Linked DNA regions of Homo sapiens. The protein of the gene in region 1 purifies or fractionates together with the protein of each later gene. This does not show direct contact. Each region holds a gene or a part of one and is shown in the gene's direction. Other genes may lie near its edges. The genes, in order: IRS4, MAGED2, PPP5C and NISCH.

Evidence for each region.
Region 2: the proteins of IRS4 (region 1) and MAGED2 purify together in Homo sapiens (affinity purification with mass spectrometry; 2 studies listed by BioGRID and IntAct, with this or other methods). This does not show direct contact.
Region 3: the proteins of IRS4 (region 1) and PPP5C purify together in Homo sapiens (affinity purification with mass spectrometry; 2 studies listed by BioGRID and IntAct, with this or other methods). This does not show direct contact.
Region 4: the proteins of IRS4 (region 1) and NISCH purify together in Homo sapiens (affinity purification with mass spectrometry; 2 studies listed by BioGRID and IntAct, with this or other methods). This does not show direct contact.

Annotation. Positions count from the first base shown.
Region 1 is NC_000023.11:108,726,535-108,733,563, reverse strand, and holds part of IRS4 (insulin receptor substrate 4), read left to right. Parts: coding exon 1-985; coding exon of another isoform or gene 986-993; exon of another isoform or gene 994-1,067; intron 1,068-1,666; coding exon of another isoform or gene 1,667-1,671; exon of another isoform or gene 1,672-7,029. UniProt on the Homo sapiens protein: Acts as an interface between multiple growth factor receptors possessing tyrosine kinase activity, such as insulin receptor, IGF1R and FGFR1, and a complex network of intracellular signaling molecules containing SH2 domains.
Region 2 is NC_000023.11:54,810,745-54,816,544, forward strand, and holds the end of MAGED2 (melanoma-associated antigen D2), read left to right. Parts: intron 1-76; coding exon 77-385; intron 386-505; coding exon 506-569; intron 570-829; coding exon 830-909; intron 910-1,412; coding exon 1,413-1,507; intron 1,508-2,200; coding exon 2,201-2,280; intron 2,281-2,373; coding exon 2,374-2,416; intron 2,417-2,743; coding exon 2,744-2,806; intron 2,807-3,625; exon of another isoform or gene 3,626-3,756; intron 3,757-3,916; coding exon 3,917-4,031; intron 4,032-4,503; coding exon 4,504-4,938; 3' UTR 4,939-4,946; intron 4,947-5,136; 3' UTR 5,137-5,271; downstream 5,272-5,800. UniProt on the Homo sapiens protein: Regulates the expression, localization to the plasma membrane and function of the sodium chloride cotransporters SLC12A1 and SLC12A3, two key components of salt reabsorption in the distal renal tubule.
Region 3 is NC_000019.10:46,343,087-46,350,114, forward strand, and holds the start of PPP5C (serine/threonine-protein phosphatase 5), read left to right. Parts: upstream 1-4,000; 5' UTR 4,001-4,010; coding exon 4,011-4,131; intron 4,132-7,028. UniProt on the Homo sapiens protein: Serine/threonine-protein phosphatase that dephosphorylates a myriad of proteins involved in different signaling pathways including the kinases CSNK1E, ASK1/MAP3K5, PRKDC and RAF1, the nuclear receptors NR3C1, PPARG, ESR1 and ESR2, SMAD proteins and TAU/MAPT.
Region 4 is NC_000003.12:52,458,601-52,465,629, forward strand, and holds part of NISCH (nischarin), read left to right. Parts: intron 1-61; coding exon 62-244; intron 245-7,029. UniProt on the Homo sapiens protein: Acts either as the functional imidazoline-1 receptor (I1R) candidate or as a membrane-associated mediator of the I1R signaling.

The DNA of each region.
Region 1 (7,029 bases):
AAAAGAGAGAGCAATACACCAGCTCCCTCTACTCAAGGACTACCAGATTCGTGGGGCATAATTGCTGAACCCAGACAGTCAGCCTTTTCTAATTATGTGAATGTTGAGTTTGGAGTGCCATTTCCAAATCCAGCAAACGACCTCTCAGATCTTTTAAGAGCTATACCACGTGCCAACCCCTTATCTCTGGACAGTGCTAGGTGGCCACTTCCTCCCCTTCCCCTCAGTGCTACAGGTAGCAATGCTATTGAGGAAGAGGGTGACTACATTGAAGTAATTTTCAACTCAGCAATGACACCAGCCATGGCTCTTGCTGACAGTGCCATTCGCTATGATGCTGAAACAGGTCGAATCTATGTGGTCGACCCATTTTCTGAGTGCTGTATGGATATTTCTCTCTCCCCCAGCCGATGTTCTGAACCACCACCTGTAGCTAGGCTGCTGCAGGAAGAAGAGCAGGAGAGAAGACGCCCACAAAGCCGTTCTCAAAGTTTCTTTGCAGCAGCCAGAGCCGCTGTCTCTGCTTTTCCAACAGACAGCCTCGAGAGAGACCTTTCCCCATCCTCAGCCCCGGCTGTCGCTTCGGCTGCAGAGCCGACTTTAGCCCTCAGCCAAGTTGTAGCTGCGGCCTCCGCGCTCGCCGCAGCCCCGGGCATCGGCGCAGCAGCCGCAGCTGCTGGATTTGACTCCGCCTCTGCCCGCTGGTTTCAACCTGTTGCTAATGCTGCTGATGCCGAAGCAGTAAGGGGAGCCCAAGACGTTGCCGGTGGCTCGAACCCTGGAGCCCACAACCCATCTGCAAACCTTGCCAGAGGTGATAACCAGGCTGGCGGGGCTGCCGCTGCAGCTGCCGCTCCGGAACCACCACCTCGCAGTCGCCGGGTGCCAAGACCCCCGGAGAGAGAAGATTCTGACAACGACGACGACACTCACGTGAGAATGGATTTTGCCAGACGTGATAATCAGTTCGACTCTCCCAAAAGAGGTCGGTAATTTTAGAATTAATTTCCCTAAAGTGAATGGTCATTGTCTAATGATTCGATGCGCTACAGTCTACAGTGTTAGGGATACTATTTCATTAACTGGTGCTATTCGACATGGAGTATAGAATTCAGTTTTAATTATTCACAAATGCCTTTTTGATCTTTGCAAAAATTTGTTTTTATCTAATCAATTTCTTTATCTGGACAGAACTGATTATCATTTAAACACTGGTTCTACTTTTTTAGGAGTAGTTAAAACGCAGACATAAAAAGCATAAGGATACTTTTAAACATCCTTCCCCATCATTTAATGATAATGTAAAGCAGGATATCGTAAATTGGGTTCCACCAACTAATTTTCAAATCAACAATTAAAAGCTGCTTTTCTGCAAATGCCCATATTTAAGTGTAGGAATTTAATAAGAGCACAGACTATTAAGCAGTAATAATCAACTATTTATGTTTAGGGAGGATAATTTTCTCCTCTGAAAGTTACTTTTTAAAGAGCAGTCGTTGTTGTGCTAGTTTGCTGTGATTTACCAAGAAAGTTAAATCTCAATTGTTAACGTGAATGTCTGGGGGGAACAAAACATAAATAATCCAAAACAGGAGGTGATTAAAAGAAGACAGTATTTGGCTCTGGAATGTGTTTGTGTGTTGATTTTCTTTTTGTTTTTACACAGGATAAATTCCAGAAACCTTGAGTGTTCCTTTTCTCTGTCACTAGTAATGACAGGCAAGTCACATTTGCTGTGCCTCATTTTCTTCTTTTAACCCCCCACCCTTCTAAAAGAGGGTGTGGTGACAACTTGAGAATGGATATGAATATTATTTCAAAGGTTTAAAAAGCAGTTAAAACATTTAATTCATATATCTTATGGGAAATCAAGGAAAGCAAGATAAGGCTGGAGGAAGACCTGACTCCAGGGGCAGCTTACCCTGGAATGGTGGAAGTTTTTAAAGGGCTACTTTTCCAAAGGAAGAAGTAAGGAAGAGTAGGAGCTGTCAGACTTGGAAACAAGACTTAGAGTAATTCTACTGTGTACAACATTGTGGAATGTTGTCATCAGTGTGTCTTGAAACATTTTCAAGAGATGATTGCAGAGGATGATGTCTCCATAGTCTCAACTACCTTGCCTCTTAAGTAGAATATGCTTCTTTCCCAGTGAAGGGAAGGGATGGACCCCAGCAGTTTTCATTCCAGTAGTCAGTTTAGTGAAGATTTTTGCTTTGCTTGCTTTGTGGAATGCTTTTGTGATTGGATCTCTGCCCACTGTGCTTGATCAGGCAGAACAAGTCGGGCACTGATCACAACAGTCACCTAACAAGCTCCCTATTTAATGCAGGTGTAGCCCCCCCACATCCCCTTTTTCTCCCTGCTATAGAAAACTTGCCATACACAAACTCACATTTGCAGCGTGGACACATTAAAGAGTGATCATTAAAACAACAAAAGGATGCTTTGGCTTGCCAAAGGATTCAATTCAGACCTCTTTTAAACTGTGAGTTCCCTCCCCAACACACACACATACACACACACACAAACACACATGATCACCACTGCTACCATAATCATACGTTTAAAATATATAATTTCATTTCCAAGTCTTTAATCCATAATAAGATTTTCAAGAGTAGATCTACTTTATTCTGTAGAATATACCTGAAAATTGATCTCAATCTATTGTTTGAGTCTAACTATTGAAGACACCATTTATAATTTTGATGTAGATGATACACAGTTGCCTGTGTCCCTGTAGTACTTTCAAAAGGACCAGTTTTCATAGAGGTTTATTTTAAGAAGTTTAAGATTTAAATAGTGAAATCTTACTGTTCCTTGAATAAATTCTGACTTCCCAAGGAATACCTAGACACAATGATCATTATTTTAGCATAAATTCCTGATTTATGACTTTGTAGCTATTTTGGAGATTTAACATTCTGTAAATGCATTGTTTATTGAGGAAATTCCTAGCTTTATTGAGTGACTTTAGCAAGGAAGCTCTATCTCACAGGGAGGCAGGCGCTTAGGTTGAAATAAGAGAATCAACGTGGAAGCACTTTGGAATGTTAAAGCACTTTACAAATGTAAGATATTTTTAGTGTCATTGGATTAATACTGAAGTGAAATTTCGGCAGTTTAAACTGATTCAGTTTCTTGCAAAATAATTGATCTTGAGGGTGATTCCTGCACATAATTTGCTGAAATACATGAAAGGAATGGTGGGGATTGCCGGCGGGGGGGTGCGGGGGTGGGGGTGGTGGTGGTGGTGGTGGTGGTGTTGATGGTGGTGAAACAACCCATTGTAGGAAATGACTTTGGTTAGCATTTTAATGTAAATTGTATGGTAGAATGTTGTCTGTGAAGTGTTAAGAACAAGCTGAATGATTCTGATCCTTTTTTATTGTAAAGCTGTAGAATAATTTTCACTCATTTCTGATCTCTATTTTCCTATCTAACATTAAAACAAAAACAATCACGTTAGGAAACAAAAACATAATGCTTTGACAGAGGAACAAATACCATCTTTATTAGAAGTTATGTATTTCAAAAAGTCATTTTAATTGATGGCAGGTGCTTAGAACAGTGCCTGGCATATAGTAAGTACTATACATGAATTATTTTACAGTTATTGCCATTGTTATTGTTGCTACTGTTATTATTACATTTAGAAAAACAAACCTAAATTAAGATTCTCCATCTGAAAATCTCACTTTTCAGTTAGTCTTTACTTGCATTTAAAATACTTTACATTATTGTTCAGTTGGCATGTTTATAGATTACCATTTAAGTGAAGTGAGATTATAAATCTGTGAGACAGCTGTTCTCATGTAACACAAAATTAATATGTAATTCCATTTACCTACAGTCACATTGCGTATAAGTAAGTACAGTAAAGGAATTTACTCAAGTCGATTAGAAAGAAACACCCAGAAGTATAACCTTAGACATGACTGTATTAATAAATGAAATAATTTTTAATCATTTATTAAAGATGAAGTCTTCACATTTTAAACACATAGGTTATAGGCATTAGCATTTAGGAGAAGAATGTTGTTTCTTATGCAGTTTAGTTTGACTGTTAACCTATGTATGACTATTTGCTTCTTTTTCTACCTTACCTGATGTACAATTCATAGTTCAAAATGACTTGAGGTGAACATTTTCCTGGTTTTTTTATTCAAGAGATGGGAGGATATAAAAGGGCAGCTCTAGGAGGGGTGAGAGAATCGGTCAGCCAAATTAGTAATGTTATGATGGCACTTGGTATTAAAAAGCAAAAAAAAAAAACTTTAGTAATTAATTTTTCAGTGTTAGACACTGTTATCACCATGAAGGAATCATGCTTCTTTTGAGTGTACTACTGCCAAACTTGTTGCTATCAGTTATAGGCACTAAGAGCACATTGTTTTTATTCCATTGAAGTTAATTATTATAAAAATTTCCATATAGCAGAAATTTCCCAGCTACCATTGACGGATCATTTATTTTAGGTAATATTCAACACCTCAAAATTGGACAGTGTTTGGACTAATGAGGTATTTGTCCTCTAACAATTAAAGAGGACTTCACTTAATTAAAGTTAACTAAAGTTGTTCACAATCATTATTCATTTGCATTCATTCTATTTTAAGAGTGATGTTTTCAGGGTAAAAATTTCAACTACTAGCAAAATACTTACCTTAAACAAGGACCAGAACTTTAATTAAGCACACCAGAATGTCACACATGTATAAAAATTCGAACGAGATCTCTTACTTTCTTTTTCTCTCCCTAATCCCCTGTTTTGGGAACAAACTTAGGCTTCTCAGAGTGACAAAAAAATAATTCCTGTGGGAATAGATGTGGCTGACGAGTGTAGGGAGAACTAAGGAATAGTTTATGTGATTTAAAAGGGTCTATTGTTAAATTGTCAAATTGTTGATTGAGGAAATGCTTTCCAGTTGCAGATTGCCTTATAGTTTGCAAAGCACATTCACATTCATTATTTTACTGATGGATGGTAAGTACTGGAAATGAAGCCCATGTTGAGAATTTTCCCAAGATCAAAAAGGTAAGTGGCAGAGCTGAAAATCTAACTCATACATCTGATTTCAAGTCCAGCACTCCACCCAACACATGACACCTCCCTTTAATCAGGTGTTTAGTCTGTTATTTTCCCACTGGTGACAGATTATTACATGGTTAATGATTAGGAAAAAATTACAAGTTTGCTTTCACTTGATAGTAGCAAATTTTGTTGTAAGTAATTCATTCAGAGCATTATAACTGTGGACTATCTTCCAGGACCTGGGTAATTTTATTACATTGAACTGTTTGCCCTGGCTCTTAGAATAAAAGAATTTGACTTGTGCTGGAATTGAATGTTTTAAATCTGATATAGGGAGGAGTTGGTTAATCTTCACTGCCCAAACACAAATAGTGTATGTATCTATTTAGATCCCACAGAAACATTGAAAGGAAAGAAAGTGAATTGAGGGTGCATTCAGTAAATTTCCATTAATGGTCATTTCTTTAACTGAAGTTAGATTTCTTTGATTTTCCTAATAATTCATTGACATTTGGGAGTTATAGCAAAAAGTCTTTTCATTTAATTTCTTCCTTCATTATAAAATTTGGTATTCTGATCTAAATCAGCACAGTAGGCAAAACAGGATAAAGTAAGACAGGTGGAAGAATAAGCAGTGTAGCAATAGACGTTCTTCATTTGTTTAAAAAGTGAACTTGCTTTTGGCAGTCAGGCAAGTAGATTTTAGAAGCCTTGAAAATCAAACTCTCTCCTTGGGACATAGAAATCCCTGTTTACAATTAAGTTCATTTTGATTTAGCACCTTTTTTAAGGCTTTAAGAGTATATAAAAATAGCCCAGACGTTTTATTGGCAGTATTGGAAAATAGCTTTTGTAAAATGCTTAATTAAAACTTTCAGTATATTTTCTCTAAGAGGTGCTGCCAGACTCTTAGATAGTGAGGATCATTTACTAGAAAACGTTGCTTGGTCTTGAATGAGAAATGAGAAATTTAAGACACTGCTTTTTATAATAATGAAATAAATACATCACAAAGCACTGAGTTTTTGCCACAATCATTGGATTGCTGATTTTAAAGCTATTGATAAAATTGCCAAGAAAAATGTGCTTGCCATATGAACTTAAAATATATTCTCCAGCAATTCTGCATTGATTATTGGTAATGTAGCTACAGGTCTCACATTTCCACCTTATTTTGGAAAAATAGACTCAACACTTGAGAAATAGGAATGTTTAAAGATGTTTCTAGTGTAAATTATATACTGTTTTAGATATGCATTTTTAGAGGGTACCTTTCAACTTCTGGCTGAATAATTAATTTCTTTTAGAATGGAAAACATGTACTTAAATACTTATTAAGTGAAATGAGAAAGTTACTGCTATTTTCTCTTAGCTTCCTGATACCTCTTTCTTATTGGTTAGGGTTGCATTGGTTGTGTTCTGTGAGTCTTACCCTCATGTGCCCTTTGCCAAACTTGTGCCCTTGAATTCAGGCAAACATGCCCTTTCCTGGTCTCTCTCTGGCTGAAAAGGTGAGGGCCACTGTGGGAGTCCTGCAGGGCCCATAGAGGGCTTCGCCAGATGTTGATCACTCCCAGTACACAGCCTTCTTGCACTTAGCTTGCAGAGGCAACCTTCCTTGTAGGGATCCTTGTTGTACAGATCCAAGGCTGTGCTGCCTGCCCTACTGTCACTTGGCACAGAAGCAGCTGGGCCGGTGTTTAAAGCTATTTTCATGGTTGGATTGATCACAATATGTTTGATGCCAGCCACACCTTCTGGATTTACCGAATATCTAATTCCCTATATATTGTAGTCACTTTAGCTAGTTTTGACAATTTATATAATTTTTCTCCTATGATTAATAATTTCCTACTTATAGACTTGAAACTTAGAATAACAGTGAAGTTTCCATCTCACAATTAATCTTGAAAATTGCTCACATGTGTATCCATGGGGCCCTTGAAAGTCTGACCAGCAAATGTGATTTTTTACTCTTGCTTTTTAAAGTTTTA
Region 2 (5,800 bases), about 54 Mb from region 1:
TCCTGGAAGAGATAGGGAGAGGAAAAGGACCACTTGCTTCATCTGGTGACGTTGAGCTTCCTCTCTGTTGATGCAGGTGAAGCATCTGGATGGGGAAGAGGATGGCAGCAGTGATCAGAGTCAGGCTTCTGGAACCACAGGTGGCCGAAGGGTCTCAAAGGCCCTAATGGCCTCAATGGCCCGCAGGGCTTCAAGGGGTCCCATAGCCTTTTGGGCCCGCAGGGCATCAAGGACTCGGTTGGCTGCTTGGGCCCGGAGAGCCTTGCTCTCCCTGAGATCACCTAAAGCCCGTAGGGGCAAGGCTCGCCGTAGAGCTGCCAAGCTCCAGTCATCCCAAGAGCCTGAAGCACCACCACCTCGGGATGTGGCCCTTTTGCAAGGGAGGGTAAGAACTCTGTCGTTTTTATTCTGCCTTTTCTACTGCCTTGGCTGTCCTTTTCTTTGCCATCGTCTCAAGTTTTCTGCAAACTTGTTTTGGTCTTTCCATCTTTTTCTACTCTGCCAGGCAAATGATTTGGTGAAGTACCTTTTGGCTAAAGACCAGACGAAGATTCCCATCAAGCGCTCGGGTAAAGTCCTACCAATCCTCCCTCTGCCCTGAGCTCTGCCCTCCATTGCCCTTACACCATTGTGCTGGGGATATCCCCTGCTCTTATGCTTATGTCTCTGTCCTCCCAAAGTTCTGATTTGGCAGTGCTAGCATCTCTGTTGATAAGCACAGAACCGGGTTATGCCACCCTTGGTGTGGTTGGCAAAGAGTCTATAGCTTGGGCATCAGGGCCACCTGGCATCTCTTCAGTCAGGTGCTCACAACACTCTCCCCTTGCAGACATGCTGAAGGACATCATCAAAGAATACACTGATGTGTACCCCGAAATCATTGAACGAGCAGGCTATTCCTTGGAGAAGGTGAAGGGGCAGCCCTGGGGGATGGGCACAGTGGGGAAGCCTTGAATTGAACAAAAATGTACAAGTCCCTTCTCGGGAACCAAAGAGACCTGCTAATCCAGCTCCATCGCTATGCTGAGGGGCAGACAGTGGCCTAGGGAGGGGTGTAGATTAGCGATGGGTCACACAGCAAGTCAATGGTAAAAGTGCAGCTAGGACCCAAGACACCCAACTTAATCCTGGCTTCTGTCCGTCCATGGCAGCTCCTGCCATGTATTTGAGATTTCACCTCTCCCTTTCATTCCCCATTCTCTGTCTCCCTAGAGTCCCACTCACCACAAAGATGATGATGACAATAGTACATTTGCAGCGTGTTTACCGGGTGCCAGGCACTTAGCTATGTACTTTGTGCGTATTATCTCACTGATTTCTCACACATGCGAAACTCCTAGGTACATAGGGAGCTGCAGCATGCCCCGGAAGCTGAATTTTGTCATCTCACAAGCTGTTCTCCCCATCCACAGGTATTTGGGATTCAATTGAAGGAAATTGATAAGAATGACCACTTGTACATTCTTCTCAGCACCTTAGAGCCCACTGATGCAGGCATACTGGGAACGTAAGCTGGGAAAGGGCTGAGGTGTGGGGGGCTTCTGCTTTGGCCATGTGCTGCTACTCCTCCTTTGTCCTACTTCCCCCATCCTCTTAGAGAGTCAGGAAAGACAGGGTCTCAAAAGCCCCGTCCCAGTTCCTATGCATAGTTGGAGCCCTGCTTACAGTGGTGGCACCTGATTATGATTGACTGGAGGGTGTAGGAGCCTGGAGTGGGACATTCCTGCTGTCAGGTTTGCTGTCTCTGTAGAAGCTTCCCAGGAAAGCAGGCCTGTCGTTGCTTGCCTCTTCCTACTGGGTGCCTGGCCTGGCTTTGGCAGAGTGGTTCTCAAGGAGGGCTTCCTGGTGTGGGTGGATCAGGATGCATGAAGCGCAGGAGTGTCAGTGGGGCTGAAGGTTCTGGGACAGAAAGAAGGGACTCACATTGACTGAGTGCTTGTGTTGTACCAGGTTGGCAGCCATTCTTCCATCTTCTTGGAAACCCAGGGAAGGGAAAATATGATTTTTTCTATTTTACTGAAGAGTAGACTGAGGCTTGCAAGTCTAAGTGCCTTGCCAAGGGTGGCATAGAGCTGGAAGCAGAGACTGGGTAGAATTCTGTATCTGAGGAATCTGGGAGAGGCTAGCCTAGTGAGTTGGCTGGTGTGTCTGTTGCAGATGGCTGCTGAACATAAACCTCTCTGTCCTGTTATTTCTCTAGGACTAAGGACTCACCCAAGCTGGGTCTGCTCATGGTGCTTCTTAGCATCATCTTCATGAATGGAAATCGGTCCAGTGAGGGTGAGTGGCTGGGCTTGCAGCTGAATGGGTGGCTGTGGTCTAGATTCCATGTGTTCAATTTCTGTCCCTGTCTCCTCTTGCCTCCCCTCGCAGCTGTCATCTGGGAGGTGCTGCGCAAGTTGGGGCTGCGCCCTGGGTATGATTGGGCTCTCTCAGCGCTTGCTGTCCGTGTTGTCCTTTGGCAAGAGAGGACGGTCCTAGGATTGCATCAGTCTGGTGGTCTGGTGGAGCGGGTGGGGTGCTGGACTGGGTAGAGGGCCCAGGGTTCTGACCTGGGTGGATGATGGGTGAATGGTCCTGAACTCTCTGCTCCCTCTCTCAGTGTCTCTTGGGCTTCTATGGAGCTTCCCTCTTGTGCTGGAAACCTCTTTTCCATCTTGGAAATGCCTCTGCCCACATCTGGGAAGTGCCATAGCCTTGAGTGAATTTATTTGTTTATTTATTTTTCTTTTTCTTCTCTCAGGATACATCATTCACTCTTTGGGGACGTGAAGAAGCTCATCACTGATGAGTTTGTGAAGCAGAAGTAAGTATCTCTGTCTGGTGTTCATGTGTCCCATGCATTTGGCCTATTTCAGAACTGAGTGATAAAGCCGTGGTGCATGGATGCATGTGTCTATGTGTGTATGTATTTGCATATTTGCATGTATGCAGGTGGGATTATTCCTTGGGCGGTGATGGGAAACAGGAGCAGCACATGTTTCCTGATCTGTTACATATACCTCAACATTTGTCTTGAGACCAGTTCTGCAAGGGAGGGATTATCATTACCATCATTGTACGTATGCAGAAACTGAGGTTTAGAGAGGTGAAGTCATTTGGTCAGGGTTACACAGGTAGCAAGTAGAAGAGTTATGTTTAGAACTTGGCTCCAAAGCCTTAGTTCTTTTTATTCTGCTAACTAGAGCTTCATAGAAATTAATTTCCGTAAAGAAATGACATAGAATGGTAGCTTCAGGCAACCAGGTACCATGCTGGGGAGTTGACTTGTACATCTCATTTCATTTTCATAACTACCCTGCAGCTGTCATCCCATCCCCGTTTTACAGTTGAGGGACCTGGGGCTCCGAGAAGGGAGATCTGAGCATGGCCCACAGCTGGTATGGGCCTGGAGCCCAGTCCTCTTGAATTTCTGGCCAAAGCTCACCTATCCTTGGTCCTTGGAGGACATGCAAACACTCACACAGCCACACGCATGTGCACACAGAAACACACACAAAGGGTCAGGAATTCAGCATGTGTGAAGCATGCTGCTATTGGCTGTTCTTCCTCTGTAGTCTTTCTGGTCATTTTCTGTGGTGGACCTTTCTGGGCTTGGCCAGGCTGAGGCCAAGACACTTGCAGTGGGGTGTGCTCAGAGCAGGGGGCCCAAAGAATGGCTCCTCTGTTTACAACACACCCAACAGGAATCTGGGGTCATTGTGATGAGGGCGTCAAACTTGTGGCTTCCCTATGAACAAACGTCCCCCAACACCTCTATGTGGCTTCTGGGCAAGACCAGTGGGACAGGGCTCAATATTGGAAGAAAGACTGTAGTAATTAGTGGATGATGTTGCCATCTGGAGCCTGTCCAGTCTATGCATGGGTAGGCCATGAATGGTCTTAGAAATAAAGGCTTTGAACCTCTCTTTCCAAGGTACCTGGACTATGCCAGAGTCCCCAATAGCAATCCCCCTGAATATGAGTTCTTCTGGGGCCTGCGCTCTTACTATGAGACCAGCAAGATGAAAGTCCTCAAGTTTGCCTGCAAGGTAATTGGAGAGCTCCTTGAGCTTGGCAAGTCAAGAGCATGGGGTGCCCCTGGCTGGGGCAGGCTGTGTGCAGAGCAGCCTGCAGTTCAAATCTGAATGTTTTGGTGCTTCTGTTAATTGTCAAAACACTGTAACAGGCACTTTATCTGAATCATTTAAGCCTTACAACCTGATATGTCATTGCCCTGTTACAGATGAGAAAACCGAGGCCCAGAAAGGTTGGTAGGTGACATGTCCAAAGTCATGGGGCTAGGAAGTGTCAGAGCAGGGATGGAATATTAGGTGCATAATTACTGGTAATACTGTATTATTACTATTATCTTTTTATACTAAGCATGTAGCATAGTGCCTAGCATAAAGGTAGATGCTTAATCCTCTTATGCTCCTTCTGATGGTTATTTACATAGTAATACTGTATTATTACTATGGCTTAATCCCTCTATGCTCCTTCTGATGGTTATTTTTGTTTCAGGTACAAAAGAAGGATCCCAAGGAATGGGCAGCTCAGTACCGAGAGGCGATGGAAGCGGATTTGAAGGCTGCAGCTGAGGCTGCAGCTGAAGCCAAGGCTAGGGCCGAGATTAGAGCTCGAATGGGCATTGGGCTCGGCTCGGAGAATGCTGCCGGGCCCTGCAACTGGGACGAAGCTGATATCGGACCCTGGGCCAAAGCCCGGATCCAGGCGGGAGCAGAAGCTAAAGCCAAAGCCCAAGAGAGTGGCAGTGCCAGCACTGGTGCCAGTACCAGTACCAATAACAGTGCCAGTGCCAGTGCCAGCACCAGTGGTGGCTTCAGTGCTGGTGCCAGCCTGACCGCCACTCTCACATTTGGGCTCTTCGCTGGCCTTGGTGGAGCTGGTGCCAGCACCAGTGGCAGCTCTGGTGCCTGTGGTTTCTCCTACAAGTGAGATTTTAGGTATCTGCCTTGGTTTCAGTGGGGACATCTGGGGCTTATGGGGCTGGGATGAGGAGCTGGATGATTCTAGGAAGGCCCAAGTTGGAGAATGATGTGGAGAGTGTGCCAAGACACTGCTTTTGGCATTTTATTCCTTTCTGTTTGCTGGATGTCAATTGACCCTTTTATTTTCTCTTACTTGTGTTTTCAGATATTGTTAATCCTGCCAGTCTTTCTCTTCAAGCCAGGGTGCATCCTCAGAAACCTACTCAACACAGCACTCTAGGCAGCCACTATCAATCAATTGAAGTTGACACTCTGCATTAAATCTATTTGCCATTTCTGAGTTTATTGCTTTTTTTGGCGGGCTGTCACATTTTGGTATCACATTTAAAAATCAGTGAGTTGGGAAAGTTTCCACCTCAGTCTGTGTTTAGTTTGAGGTGATATTGTTGGATTCCCAGGAGCGAGATTAACACACCTTTCTGGGATAGATTGGGCCTCACGTCTAATTGTTGGATTCCCAGGAGCGAGATTAACACACCTTTCTGGGATAGATTGGGCATCACGTCTAGCCTTCAGGGTGGTGGGATTTTAGTGGGGTGGAGTTCAAGAGATTGTAGTTACAGAGGACACACTTTGAAGGAGAGGCTTGAGGTCGGCAAGTCTAGAGCAGAAAGTGTAAGTAGAGGAGACTGGACATCAAATATAGAATCCCTTTTTGAGAAATTTGAATGAGGAGAGAGAGGGGTACAGAGCTAAATGGAGATACAGGAACAAGGGAGCATTTTCTTGGGGAAGGAGAGAGAGACTTGAGTAGGGAGGAGTCAACGGAGAGGGAGAAGTTGAATGTTGACTTTTGCAGCCCAGTCCTG
Region 3 (7,028 bases), on another chromosome or scaffold:
CCCCTCAGCTGTCTGCCACCATCTATGTGCCTCCCTTACCCCCCAGCTTTCTTTCTACAGATGGTGCTACTCTTGGTCTCCCACAGGAAAAGGCCTCCCCCCTTCTTAGCCCCATTTACCCCGTTTGTGGAAGGCACTGCTCGCTCTGTTTTGTCAGAGAGTGGCCTATCCAGATTGGTGCTATGGGGGGGTCTGACCCCTCCCTCCTCCCTCTGGAGGTGATGTGGGCCCTCAATGGAGGGAATTGTGCTGGGCTAGGGAAAGGGGAGGGACTAGACTGGCCACACTGGCTCTGAAACTCACCAATCTCTATACACCATAAAGACCTCACCTTGGTAGGCACCAGAGCTCTGCGTGTTGACTCATCTTTTGGATCTCCTCTGGGAGTGTGGGTGCACTGGTGGCTGAGTGTCTTTTTTTTTTTCCTTCCTTCCTTCCTTCCTTCCTTCCTTCCTTCCTTCCTTCCTTCCGCTCTCTCTCTTTCTTTTCTTTTTTTTTTTTTCTTGGAGTCTCACTCTGTTGCCCAGGCTGGAGTGCAGTGGCACAATCTCTGCTCACTGCAACCTCCACTACCCAGGTTCAAGCGATTCTCCTGCCTCCGTCTCCCAAGTAGCTGGGATTTCAGGCATGTGCCACCACACCCAGCTAATTTTTGTGTTTTTAATAGAGATGGGGTTTCACCACATTGGTCAGGCTGGTCTCGAACTCCTGAACTCAGGTAATCTGCCCGCCTCGGCCTCCCAAAGTGCTGGGATTGCAGGCATGAGCCACCATGCCAGGCCCTTTCTTTCTTTCGAGACAGGGTCTCACTATCTCACCCAAGCTGGAGTGCAGTGGTGTGATCACGGCTCACTGCAGCCTCCTGGGCTCAAGCAATCCTCCCATCTCACCCTTCCCGGTAGCTGGGACTACAGGTGCATGACACGAGGCCCAGCTAATTATTTTCATTTTTTTGTAGAGACAGAGCCTTACCATGTTGCCCAGGCTGGTCTCAAACTCCTGGGTTTAAGCGATCCTCCTGCCTCAGCCTCCCAAAGTTCTAGGATTATAGGCTTGAGCCACTGCACCAGCCCCATGTTACTTTCTGATTCTGTGTATCTGTATGTGTGTGTGTGTGTGCATGCACACGAGTGTGTGCACAGTGTCATTCTGTGTATGTGTATGGGTCTTTGTCACATTCTGTGAACCTGTGTTGCAGCAGGTGGGTGGGGTTGTGATTCCTTCTACAAGTGCATATTAGTATCTGGGTGAAGTGATTCTGCCTTATGTGTGTTTCTGGTTATTTTGGGTTTCTGTGTTTCTGAGTGTGGAAGGTGCTGTGATTTTTTTTTTTTTTTTTTGCCTATGTATGTCTGTATGATGTGATTCTGTGTACATGTGTGGGACTGCTTGATGCTATAATTCTGGGTACCAATGTGTGTGTGACATGATTGCCCATAGTTAAGTGAGCATGTGTGTGCAAGAGTGTGTGTCCATGGACTCATGTGCAGGTGGGTGTGTCTGTTGTCATGTACGTCACTCTCATAACCCCCCATACAGGGTTGCACATAGGAATCTCTTCAAGGGAAGAAAAACACTCTCAAGCCTTTGCACTTCCTATTCTTCTGCCTGAAATGCCTCTCTCCCTTCCCCTCTCCCCTCACTTGGTTACCTCCTACTCATATTTCACATCTTGGTTTAGGTAACAGCTACTCCAGGAAGCCTTCCCTGCCTGCTCCAATTGGGTAAAGTGCCCCTAAAAGCTCCCCTTGGAAGCCCCCTCCCATCACAGCACTAGGCACTCTGCCCAACTCTGAATATTTGTTTTGTTTTATTTGTTTTTTGAGACAGAGTCTCACTCTGTAGCCCAGGCTGTCGTGCAGTGGCGCGATCTCGGCTCACTGCAGCCTCCGCCTCCTAGGTTCAAGCAATTCTCCTGCCTCAACCTCCCTAATAACTGGGACTATAGGTGCGCACCATCATGCCCAGCTAAATTTTTGTATTTCTGGTAGTGACGGGGTTTTGCCATGTTGGCCAGGCTGGTCTTGAACTTCTGACCTCAAGTGATCTGCCTGCTTTGGCCTCCCAAAGTGCTTCGATTACAGGCATGAGCTACCATACCCAGCCCACTTTGAGTATTTGTGATGGAGTGAATATAAAAGTACTACTCTGTGTCAGGCTCCCTGACAAATGCTGTACTCATGTTGTCGAACTCTCCTCTAATCCTGTATGATGGGGATAATTATTATCCCCACTTTACAGAGGTTGAAACTGAGGCTTAGAAGAGGGTGATCACTTGCCCAAGGTCACAGTGTCAGGAAGGATTCCGCTGGACTCGAAACCAGAATTCAAATCCACTATGGCAGCTCCTTTTCCCCCAACCCCAAAACAAACAATACGAACAAACAAAAGAAAAATTTACTAACCCACCAAGATGGGCTCTGGCACCTACAGAGGCAGTAGAGTGGCAATGAAGGACATAGGAATTAGATGGGATTCCTGATCCTGGCTCTGTCACCTTCTTATGTTGTTGTGACCTTCGTCAAACACCTCTGCAAGTCTGTGTCTTTATCTGTAAAATGGAGATGATACTAATATCTGCCCTTTAGGGTGATTGTTGGTTGTGCTGGGGGCCAGTAGGAGAGATGGGGTTGGACTAACAAGAGGTTTGGGAGTGGGATAGATAGGTTTAGGAGTGTGCTTCCAGGAGGGGATCCAGAGCCTTACAGGACTTAGTGCTACATGAGGGCTTAGAAAGGACAGACTGGAAGCGTGTACGGCGGGTGGGGATTGGCAAAGGGGTGGAATCTGGATATTAGACTATTCAGCCTGAGGTTAAGACTATTCAGGGTCTCCTAATCAGGAGTTTGGGTTTTCTCCTAAGGGTGCTGGGGCCATGGAAGCCTGGGAGCGAGAGTGTGCCATGGTTTTATCATGTCTTAGAAAGATCCCTCGGCCGGGCACGGTGGCTCACGCCTGTAATCCCAGCACTTTGGGAGGCCGAGGCGGGCGGATAGCTTGAGGTCGGCAGTTCGAGGCCAGCCTGGCCAACGTGGTGAAACCCGTTTCTACTAAAATACAAAAATTAGCCGGGCATGGTGGCGGGCGCCTGTAATCCCAGCTACTTGGGAGGCTGAGGCAGAAGAATCGCTTAAACCGGGAGGCGGAGGTTGCAGTGAGCCTAGATGGCGCCACTGCACTCCAGCCTGGGCGACAGAGGGAGACTCCCTCTCAAAAAAAAAAAAAAAAAAAAAAAAATGTGAAGGGTAAACTGGAGGGAGGCAGAGTGCATGCAATCAATGCTGTGATCTCAGACAAGAGAATCTGTAAAAACACAAACAGGAGAGTTTATTTGAAGATTCAGGATTTGGGAAGCTGAACACAGGAAGAAAGGAGATGGTGCAACACACTTCTAAGCCTTGCTCAGGACTTGAAATCCAGAGTGCCTTCAGTTAAAAACTCAAACACTGACCCTCAAGGTTGGACCCTTTTTGGCTTGAGAAACCACTAATTTTTCAGAGATGGGTAACTGAGACCCTAGAGAGGAAGGGAAGATTTGTTCAAGGTCACACAGGTAGTCGACAATAGGGCTCGACGCCCGGGTCCGGCTCCGCGTAGGGCATGGCGCTGCCTTGCAAAACAGCCACACCCGCCAGCGACATTCACAACCCACCCCCCAACCCTAGAGGACAGCGGGGAAATCCCACTTTCAGAACCGAGAAACTTTTTACAGCCTTGGAACACGGTAACTTTGGGAGGAGAGGCCACACCAGGTCTGTTTCCCCGCGCGCCCCTTCTCTCATTCCCTATTGGCTCTCTCTACCAGGGGTACCGTCTGGGGAACCTCTGGTCACCTTGTCCTCCGCGCGCTCTGTGGCGAAAGGGACCTGCGCAGGCGCGTGAAGGGCGCCTTCAGGGCCCGCGCTTTACGACACTTGTGCGGCAGCGGCGGCGGCCACCCGGCGCTCCTTCGCGACGGTTCGGCCGGGTGCCGCTGGCGGCCGTTGCCAGGGTAGGGGTCGCTTTGCGGCATGGCGATGGCGGAGGGCGAGAGGACTGAGTGTGCTGAGCCCCCCCGGGACGAACCCCCGGCTGATGGAGCTCTGAAGCGGGCAGAGGAGCTCAAGACTCAGGCCAATGACTACTTCAAAGGTGCGCCCGCCTGGCAGGGAGGGTGGACAGTGGCCCAGGCTGAGGGGTGCCGGGCCCGCGCGGAACCATAGCAACGCGGAGCTGCAGCCTGGGCGCGGGGCAGACACTACCAAGTGACCGGGCGTGGGGAGGCCCAGGATGGCGCTGCCAAGGAGCGACATAGGGGGCTTCGGAGAGTGATACCTAGGAGTGGCGTGCGGAGCGGGTGCTACTCAGTGGAGAGACTGAGGAGGGCGCCACCAATTGTGGGGCGAGAGGGGGACTGGAATGAGGGCGCTACCAAACGTGAGGCCTGTAGAGGGCGCTACCAGGCAGTGACATGTGGTGGGGGAGTGATTGATGGCGCTACCAAATGGGGAGTCCTGGGGTGGGTGCCGCCAAGTGGGGGGTAGAGGGGGCACAGCCCCAATAGAGAAGGCAATCGTGGGGGTGGGGAATGGATCATTAGATGGGGGGAACAAGGAAGTAGGAGATTTGGGCTGACCCGAGGAAAAGGAATGTGATGGTGGGGGCCTTGGGAGTAAGGGTGGGGATCCTTAAGAATAGTATCACTTAGAATATTGAGAGTCAAGTGTGGGGCACCCATTCATTCATTAATTCAACAAATATTTATTGAGTACCTGTTATGTGCCAAGGACTGTGCTTGACTTTGGGGATATAGCAGTGAATGAGACAGATGTGGCCCTGTCCTTAGCTTGTAATTTTGCAGGTGAACCAGACATGAAAAAAAAAAAAACAAAAAAAAACCATGTAAATAAGTAAAATACTTAAATTGTGATGAGTGCTTTGAAAGCAAACCAGCAGTGTGATGAAGTAGAGAATAAGGGTTGGAGGCTACTTTAGATAGGGTAGTGGGGGAAGGCCTTACTGAGCAGGAGGCGTTTAAGCTGAAACTCACAGAGGGAGAACTGGAGAGGAGTGTTCCAGGGAGGTAAAGCAGCCTGTGCAAAGGCCCTGGGATGGGGAATGAAAGGGTACTGGCATGGCTGGGGCTTTGGCTACTTAGGGGGAGACCAATAACAAGATGAGATTAGGACAGAGGCCAGATCATGCAGGGTCTCCGTGAGTCATTACAAAGACCAGTTTGGAATTTTTTTTTTTTTTTTTTTTTTGAGACGGGAGTTTTGCTCTTTTTGCCCAGGCTAGAGTGCAATGGCGCAATCTCGGCTCACTGCAACCTCCGCCTCCCTGGTTCAAGCGATTCTCCTGCCTCAGCCTCCCGAGTAGCTGGGATTATAGACGCACACCACCATGCCCAGATAATTTTTGTACTTTTAGTAGAGATGGGGTTTCGCCATGTTGGCCAGGCTGGTGTCGAACCTCTGACCGCAGGTGATCCGCCCATCTCGGCCTCTCAAAGTGCTGGGATTACAGGCATGAGCCACCACGCCCAGCCCTACAAGAAGACACATTAAGTAAATGGGCCAGTCTGGACTGGAGAAGAATTTGGGTGTGATCAAACTATGGTTGGGAATGGATGAGATCATCTAGTAAGAGGGTCTAGAGGGGGGACTTAGGACAGAACCCAAATGGAAGAGGGTGAGGCTAAGGAGGAGCACTTAGTGAGGTGGAAAGGAAGCCAGGAAAGGTGTCGGGAAGGCTGAGAGAAGGGAGCGCTTCTAGAACAAGGAGCTGGTGCCTTTAGTCCGATGCTGCCAAGGCAAGCACTGGCCATTGGCTTTGGCTCCATGGATGCTGGTAGTGATGTTGACAGGAGCAGTTATTGGGGAGTGATGGGGGTGATGCAGCCAGGAGGTGCTGAAGAGTGAATGGGAGGGGAGGAAGTGGAGACAGCAAATGTTAAGTGTTAGGAGTATTGGTTCTGAAGGGGAGTGGAGAAATGGGGGAGGGTGGTAAGACGAGAACGTGCACAGGAGTTCGAGACCAACCTGGCCAACATGGTGAAACGACGTCTCTGCTGAAAAAATTAGTTGGGTGTGGTGGCACACACCTGTAGTCCCAGCTACTTGGGAGGCTGAGGCAGGAGAATTGCTTGATCCTTGGAGGCAGAGGCTGCAGTGAGCCAAGATCACACCACTGCATTCCAGCCTGGGCAACAGACTCCGTCTCAAGAAAAAAAAAAAGAGAGAAGATGCAGTGTCAGGGAAAGATGGATTTTTTGTAAGGATGGAAGAGAGTAGAGTCCAATAGAGATGGAGAATTGATTCTGCACAGGAGAGGGGGGACTTGCAGCAGCAAAACCCTGGAGAAGGCGGAGGTGGGAAGGGTCTGGAGCCCTGGAAGAGACTTGGCCTCCAACGGGAGCAGAAGCAAAGTGTGGAGAAGCTCGATCCGGTGGGAGCCGTGAGAGGGAGGTAGGACCAGTGAGAGATGAGGCCAGAGGTAGAACCTTGGAAGTCAGATTGGGGAATATGGGTGTCATCCTGGGGGTGGTCGATGCCATGGGAAGTTTCAAGAGCGGGGTGCTGTGGTTCAGTTAGTGTTCAGAAAAGATCCCTGGCTGCCATGCAGAGACTGGACTCCAGGGTAAGACAGGAAGGAGTCTAGATTAGTGGACAGGTGAGGAGGGGTGGTGATCGCCAGCCAGGCTGGAGGGACAGAAATAGATTCAAGAAGTGTTTCAGGGAGGAAGTGAGAGTGGCTGCCTGGAGAGAGGGTGGACGGTACTCCAGGCAGGGAAAAAAAAAACAAAAACAGGTGGCAAAGGCCCAAAGGTGAGCAGAGCCAGGCATGGAGGCCATAAGTGGGGCCACAGCGTAGGAGGCTGGAGGAGGTTATGATGAGTTTGCAGGGAGTAGATTGCGCAGGGCTGTAGGAAGGAGCCAGGGCTTTCTGGGGTGGGGTGGCGGTGGGGGGTGGGGCTCTGGGGAGCCCTGGGAGGTTCTGAGTAGGGAAAGGACAGGGTCAGGTTTGTGTTTTAGGAACACCCCTCTGGA
Region 4 (7,029 bases), on another chromosome or scaffold:
TGGTCTTACATAGGCACAGAGCCTCTTAGTCTGTGGTTGATGTGCTTATGTTTTTTTACAGCTCGTTGCAGAGAGAAAGATTGATAAAAATCTGCTTCCGCCCAAAAAGATAATTGGGAAAAACTCAAGAAGCTTGGTGGAGAAGAGGGAGAAGGATCTGGAGGTCTACCTCCAGAAGCTCCTGGCTGCCTTCCCTGGCGTGACCCCCAGAGTACTGGCCCACTTCTTGCATTTTCACTTCTATGTAAGTTCCTCATCGGGTTTTCACCTGTGCCTGCAAACCCACAACTGCCAAACTTGAGGCAGCAAACCAGGGGAGACCTCAGCTTTGAGGTGGGCTGGGGTTTGACCCTAGGTTAGAAGATGGAGGAACGTCACCCTGGTTAGGAATGCATTGTGGCCAGAAGCATGTTAGTTGACAGATTTGCCGTAAATTAGACTAAATGTGGCCACAGAGATGCTTTCCTCCACCACAAGGCATTTTGTTTAGCAAAAATGGCCTGTGGGTGTTTAAGCTAGGTTTCCATCCAGATGGATGAGGCTGGATTAGAAATAGCTGACACCTGGGATAGACTATTGTTGAGTTGTTGGTGCATAGCCCAAAACTAATTAAGGGATTAGTCTGTGATGGTGGAATATCACCATCTTGGGGCGTGTCATCAGGGTCCGCGCTGCCAGGGTGCTAAGGTTGAGGGTGGACACCTTCCTGTGATGGGAGAGTGTGTCATAGAACAGCTCTGTACTCCGTCCTTGAAAGAGGAACAACTTTCATAGGTTGCCGGTGACAGAATGCGTTGTCAGACTTTAAGAAGGGCACTTAGGCAGTGTGAAACCACAATATTTGTGCTTTTGAGACGGAGTCTTGCTCTGTCACCTAGGCTGGAGTGCAGTGGTGCGATCTCGGCTCACTACAACCTCCGCCTCTTGGGTTCAAGCAATTCTCCTGCCTCAGCCTCCCGAGTAGCTGGGACTACAGACTTGCACCACCACACCCAGCTAATTTTTGTATTTTTAGTAGAGATGGGGTTTCACCATGTTGGCCAGACTGGTCTGGAACTCCTGACCTCAAGTGATCTGCCTGCCTCAGCCTCCCAAAGTGCTGGGATTACAGGCGTGTGCCACCGCACCTGGCCAAAACCACAATATTAAATAGCAGTTCTATTTATGAGAATTTCTTCTAAGGAAAAATCAGGCAGCCGCAAAAAGGATATATGAACAAAGGTAGTCATTCCAGGATTGTAACAAAATAGTAAGGACAACCCTAAAGTCTAGTAGAAGAGGTTAAAAAAAAAAAATCAGGCCAGGTGCAGTGGCTCATGCCTGTAATCCCAGCACTTTGAGAGGCTGAGGTGGGCAGATCACTTGAGGTCAGGAGTTCAAGACCATCCTGGCTAACATGGTGAAACCCTGTCTCTACTAAGAATACAAAAATTAGCTGGGTATGGTGGCAGATGCCTGTAATCCCAGCTATTTGGGAGGCTGAGGCAGGAGAATCGCTTGAACCCAAGAAGCAGAGGTTGCAGTAAGTCGAGATCATGTCACTGCACTCCAGCCTGGGCAACAGAGTGAGAGTAAGACTTCATCTCAAAAAAAAAAAAAAAAAAAAAAAAAATCAAAGGGTACAGCCAGGCTGAGCACAGTGGCTCATGCCTGTGATCCCAGCTCTTTGGGAAAATAAAACAAAAAAGAAATCTGCAGCTCCACCATCATTATCCCAGCAGCACACCAGTCTTCCCAGCAGACACTGTCTCAAAAAAAATGCAACTTTCTTAAGCAGTATCCAACTGTATGGCTGTACTATTTTTTTTTTTTTTTTTTTGAGACAGGGTCTCACTCCATTGCTCAGGCTGGAGGACAGTGGCCTGATCATGGGTCACTGCAACCTCAAACTCCTGGGCTCAAGGGATCTTCCTGCCTCAACTTCCCAAGTAGCTGGAACTACAGGTGCATGCCACCACACCCAGCTAATTTTAAAAATTTTTTTGTAGAGATGGGGTCTTGCAGTATTGCTCAGGTTGGCCTCAAACTCGAACTCAAGCCATCCTCCCACCTCTGCCTCTCAAAGTGCTTAGACTGTAGGTGTGAGCCACTGCACCTGGCTGACTATGGTCTCATTTTTACAAAAAACAAGTTGATATGGACATATTTGTCTAGGAAAATTCTAGAAGGTTTACGTATACCAAAATGCTAAGAGTAGTTTTCTCTGAGTGATAGATTTTCAGATAATTTATATTTACTTGTTTTCCTTTTATATGATGAAGACAGGGAAGAATCCACTCCCTTTTCAGGCTCACCTTGAAGTAACCTGTGGATTATGGTCCTAAAAGCCCAGCTGTATTTAAAATACAACTTTCTTGGCCAGGTGCAGTGGCTCACGCCTGTAATCCCAGCACTTTGGGAAGGCCCAGACAGGCAGATCACTTGAGGCCAGGAGTTCGAGACCAGCCTGGCCAACATAGCGAAACCCTGTCGCTACTAAAAATACAAAAATTAGCTGCGCGTGGTGACTCATGCCTGTAGTCCCAGCTACTCAGGAGAGAGGCATGAGAGTCGCTTGAACCTGGGAAGGGGAGGTTGCAGTGAGCCGAGGTTATGCCACTGCACTTCAGCATGGGCCACAGAGACTCTGTCTCAAAGAAAAAAACAAAAACAGAAGAAACAACTTCCTTAAACTCTTTTCAGAGTAAGACAGTTGAACCTTTCTTGGATCACTAAAGAGCCTAGAAATTTGGTGGCGAGTGCTAACCTGGGGCCACTGAGCTTGGCAGGGACAGGTGGAAAAGTAGATAGCATTCACAGATGGGACCTGTGTATATGCTTTGGATTTTATTTAGCATATACCAGCAAGTATAGGGTTAGCAACATACCCTTTCGTAAACATATTTTTATACTTTCTTATGTGAGAAAAAATTTGCATTCCTTATGCAAGTCTTTCAGATAAACTTTACTGGTTAGTATTTTAAGAAATAATGTACTTTAAAGGCCGGGCGCAGTGGCTCACGCCTGTAATCCCAGCACTTTGGGAGGCCGAGGCGGGTGGATCACGAGGTCAGGAGATCGAGACCATCCTGGCTAACACGGTGAAACCCCGTCTCTACTAAAAATACAAAAAATTAGCCAGGCATGGTGGTGGGCTCCTGTAGTCCTAGCTACTCGGGAGGCTGAGGCAGGAGAATGGCGTGAACCCGGGAGGCAGAGCTTGCAGTGAGCCAAGATCGTGTCACTGCACTCTAGCCTGGGCGACAGAGCAAGACTCCGTCACAAAAAAAAAAAAAAAAGAAATATTGTATTTTAAGAAAGCTTTGGTTAGCCATTTAGGGATGAAACCTGACATGCAGTCCTTTGACGGTATTAATTCCTTGCTTGAGACCTATGCCTTTGAGGAGAGGAGGTCTCGCTGGCTGCCTCACGTGTGCCTGGCTCTGAGGGTGGAAAGGCCTGGACTGCTCTTTTGAAACTGGTTTGCCTGAGATGTGCCTGGGGCCGGCTACATCTGGTTCTGGTTTGAGGCAGGCTCCGCTACTTGTAGAAGTTTTGACATATTTGGAATTAGTATTATCAAACAGGTCCCTAGGTTATATAAATCCTAGGATTTAAAAAAGCAATTGAACCCATCGTTGGATTAAACCCACAGTTGATCAGCCATAGCACTGTTGACATTTTGGACTGGATAATTTGTTTCTGTAAGGAGCTGTCCCATGCATTGTTTAGCAGCACCCTGGCTTCTACCCACTGGATGCCAGTAGCACTTCCCCACCCAGCTATGGCAACTAAAGATGTCTCCAGACATTGCCAAATGTCCCACTGGGGGGCAAAATTGCCCCCCACTTGAAAACCACTGGATTAGATCTTCATTTGGGGCCTAAAGATTTGTCAGCCTTTTCTCCAGGCTGGGAGCTCTCTGGGGAATGTTTCTCTTAACTTTTATACTGTCTGTATCCTCTCTGAAATTGTTCCACATGTGTTCTGCCTCTTGTGTTGCTGACATTGGATAGGGTGGACCCAGGGAACCCTATTTGGCTATGGTGTGAATTTTTTTATTTTTATTTTTTGAGACGGAGTTTCGTTCTTACTGGCCAGGCTGGAGTGCAGTGGTACGATCTCGGCTCACTGCAACCTCCACCTCCCAGGTTCAAGTGATTCTCCTGCCTCAGCCTCCCGAGTAGCTGGGATTACAGATGGCCCGCCACCACACCCAGCTAATTTTTTGTATTTTTAGTAGAGACGGGGTTTCACTATGTTGGTGAGGCTGGTCTCAAACGCTTGACCTCGTGATCCACCTGCCTCAGCCTCCCAAAGTGCTGGGATTACAGGCATGAGCCACCACGCCTGGCCATGGTGTGGATTTTTAAAAATTGAGATATAATTTACATACCATAAAATTAACTTTTTAATGTGTACAATTCAGTAGTTTTTAGTATATTCACAAAGTTGAGCGACCATCACCACTATCTAATTCCAGAACATTTCATCAGCCCAAAAAGGAACCTGTACCTGTTAGCAGGAGCTTCCCATCCCTCTGTCCCCCAGCCCCTGGCAGTCACTAATCTACTTTCTGTCCTTATGGATTTGCCTGTTCTGGACATTTCATATAAATAGAATCATACAGTGTGTGGCCTTTTGTGACTGGCTTCTTTCATTTAGCCTTATCTTTTCAAGGTCCGTTCATATTGTAGCATGAATCCATTGGTCCTTTTATGACGGAGTAATAGTGTATTATTTGGATATGCCACATTATGTTTATTTATTAGCAGTTGATGGATGTTAGGTTTGTTTCCATTTTTGGCCATTGCAAATGATGCTGCTATGAGCATTTGTATGTTAATTTTTGTGTGAACTTATGTTTTCATTTTTGTTGGATATATAGCCAAAAGTGGAACCTGAGTTATATGGTAACTATGTTTGACTTTTTGAGAAACTAACAAATTGTTCTCCACAGTTGTTGCACCATTTGACGTTTCCATCGGCAGTGTATAGGTTCTAATTTCCCCACATTCTTGCTTAACACTTCTTGTCCATTTTTTTTTAAATCTTAGTTGTTCTGGTGGGTGTGAAGTGGTATCTCATTGTGGTTTTAATTTACATTTCCCTAATGACTAATGTTATTGAACCTCTTTTTTTTTTTTTTTTTTTTTTTTTCTGAGACAGAGTCTCGCTCTGTCGCACAGGCTGGGGTGCAGGCATGTGATCCCGGCTCACTGCAACCTCTGTCTCCTGGGTTCAAGCGATTCTCGTGCCTCAGCCTCCCGAGTAGCTGGGACTACAGGCGTGCACCACCACGCCTGGCTAATTTTTGTATTTTTTTCATTAGAGACGGGGTTTCACCATGTCGGCCAGGATGGTCTCGAACTTCTGGCCTCAAGTGATTCGCCCACCTTGGCCTCCCAAAGTGCTGAGATTACAGGTGTGAGCCACCACACCTGGCCTGAGCCTCTTTTCATATGATATTTGGCCATTTGTGTATTTTCTTTGGAGAAAAGTATCCAATTCTTTGTCTTTTTAAAAATCAGATTGGGCCGGGCGCGGGTGGCTCATGCCTGTAATCCCAGCACTTTGGAAGGCTGAGGTGGGCGGATCACTTGAGGCCTGGAGTTCGAGACCAGCCTGGCCAACATGGAGAAACCCTGTCTCTACTAAAAATACAGAAATTAGCCGGGCATGGTGGTGTGTGCCTGTAATCTCAGCTCCTCGGGAGGCTGACGCACAAGAATGGCTTAAATCTGAGAGGCGAAGATTGCAATGAGTGAGACCACACCACTGCACTCCAGCCTGGGTGACAGAGTAAGACTGTCTAAAAAAACAAAAAAAACAAAAAAAACAGATTATCTTTGTTGTTGAGTTGTAAGAGTTCTTTATATATTCTGGCTACTAGACTTTTAGAAACATGCAAATACTTTTTCACATTCTGTGAGTTGTCTTTTTTTTTTTTTTTTTTTTTTTTTGAGACAGATTCTTGCTCTGTTGCCCAAGCTGGAGTATAGTGGCGTGATCTCGACTCACTGCAACCTCCACCCCTGGGGTTCAAGCGATTCTCGTGCCTCGGCCTCCCAAGTAGCTGGGACTACAGGCGTACGCAACCACGTCTGGCTGATTTTTGTATTTTTAGTAGAGATGGGGTTTTACCATGTTGGCCAGGCTGGTCTTGAACTCCTGACCTTAGGTGATACACCTGTCTCAGCCTCCCAAAGTGCCGGCATTACAGCCTGAGCCACCACATCCGGCCTGCCCAGCTAATTTTTCTATTTTTAGTAGAGACAGGGTTTTACTATGTTGGCCAGGCTGGTCTCGAACTCCTGACCTTAGGTGATCCACCTGCCTCAGCCTCCCAAATTGATGGGATAACAGGCGTAAGCCACCATGCCCGGCCATCTTTTCATTTTCTTGATGGTCTTCATTGAAGCACAAAAGATTTAGATTTTGATTAAGTTCAATTTATCAATTTCTTTGGTCACTTGTGTTTTGGTATCATACATGAGAAACCATTGCCCAATCCAAGGTCACAAAGATTTATAACAATATATTCCTGTATGGATTTTGTTTGTTTTTTGAGACAGGGTCTTGCTCTATTGCCTAGGCTGGAGTGCAGTGGCACCATCTCGGCTCACTGCAGCCTCAACCTCCCAGGCTCAAGCACTCCTCCCACCTCAACCCCCCAAGTAGCTGGGACTACAGGCATATGCCACCGTACTTGGCTAATTTTTGTACTTTTTGTGGAGATGGGGTTTCTCCATGTTGCCCAGGCTGGTCTCGAACTCCTGGGCTCAAGTGATCCACCCACCTCGGCCTCCCAAAGCGCTCGGTTTACAGGCGTGAGCCACCACACCCAGCCTGCAGTGTGGATTTTAATAACAAGGAAAGAAAGCACTACTTGTTTACCAGCCCACTTTAGGTGGGAGCGCAGGGGTTGCCGCCTGTATGAGTGAGGGGCACACTGTGGCACTGGCCTGTTGCTATGCTGCTCTTCAGATTGCTGTGTCCTGACCCTCCTGGACGCGTGGTGACAGGCCTCATCCCAGAACCCCTGGAACA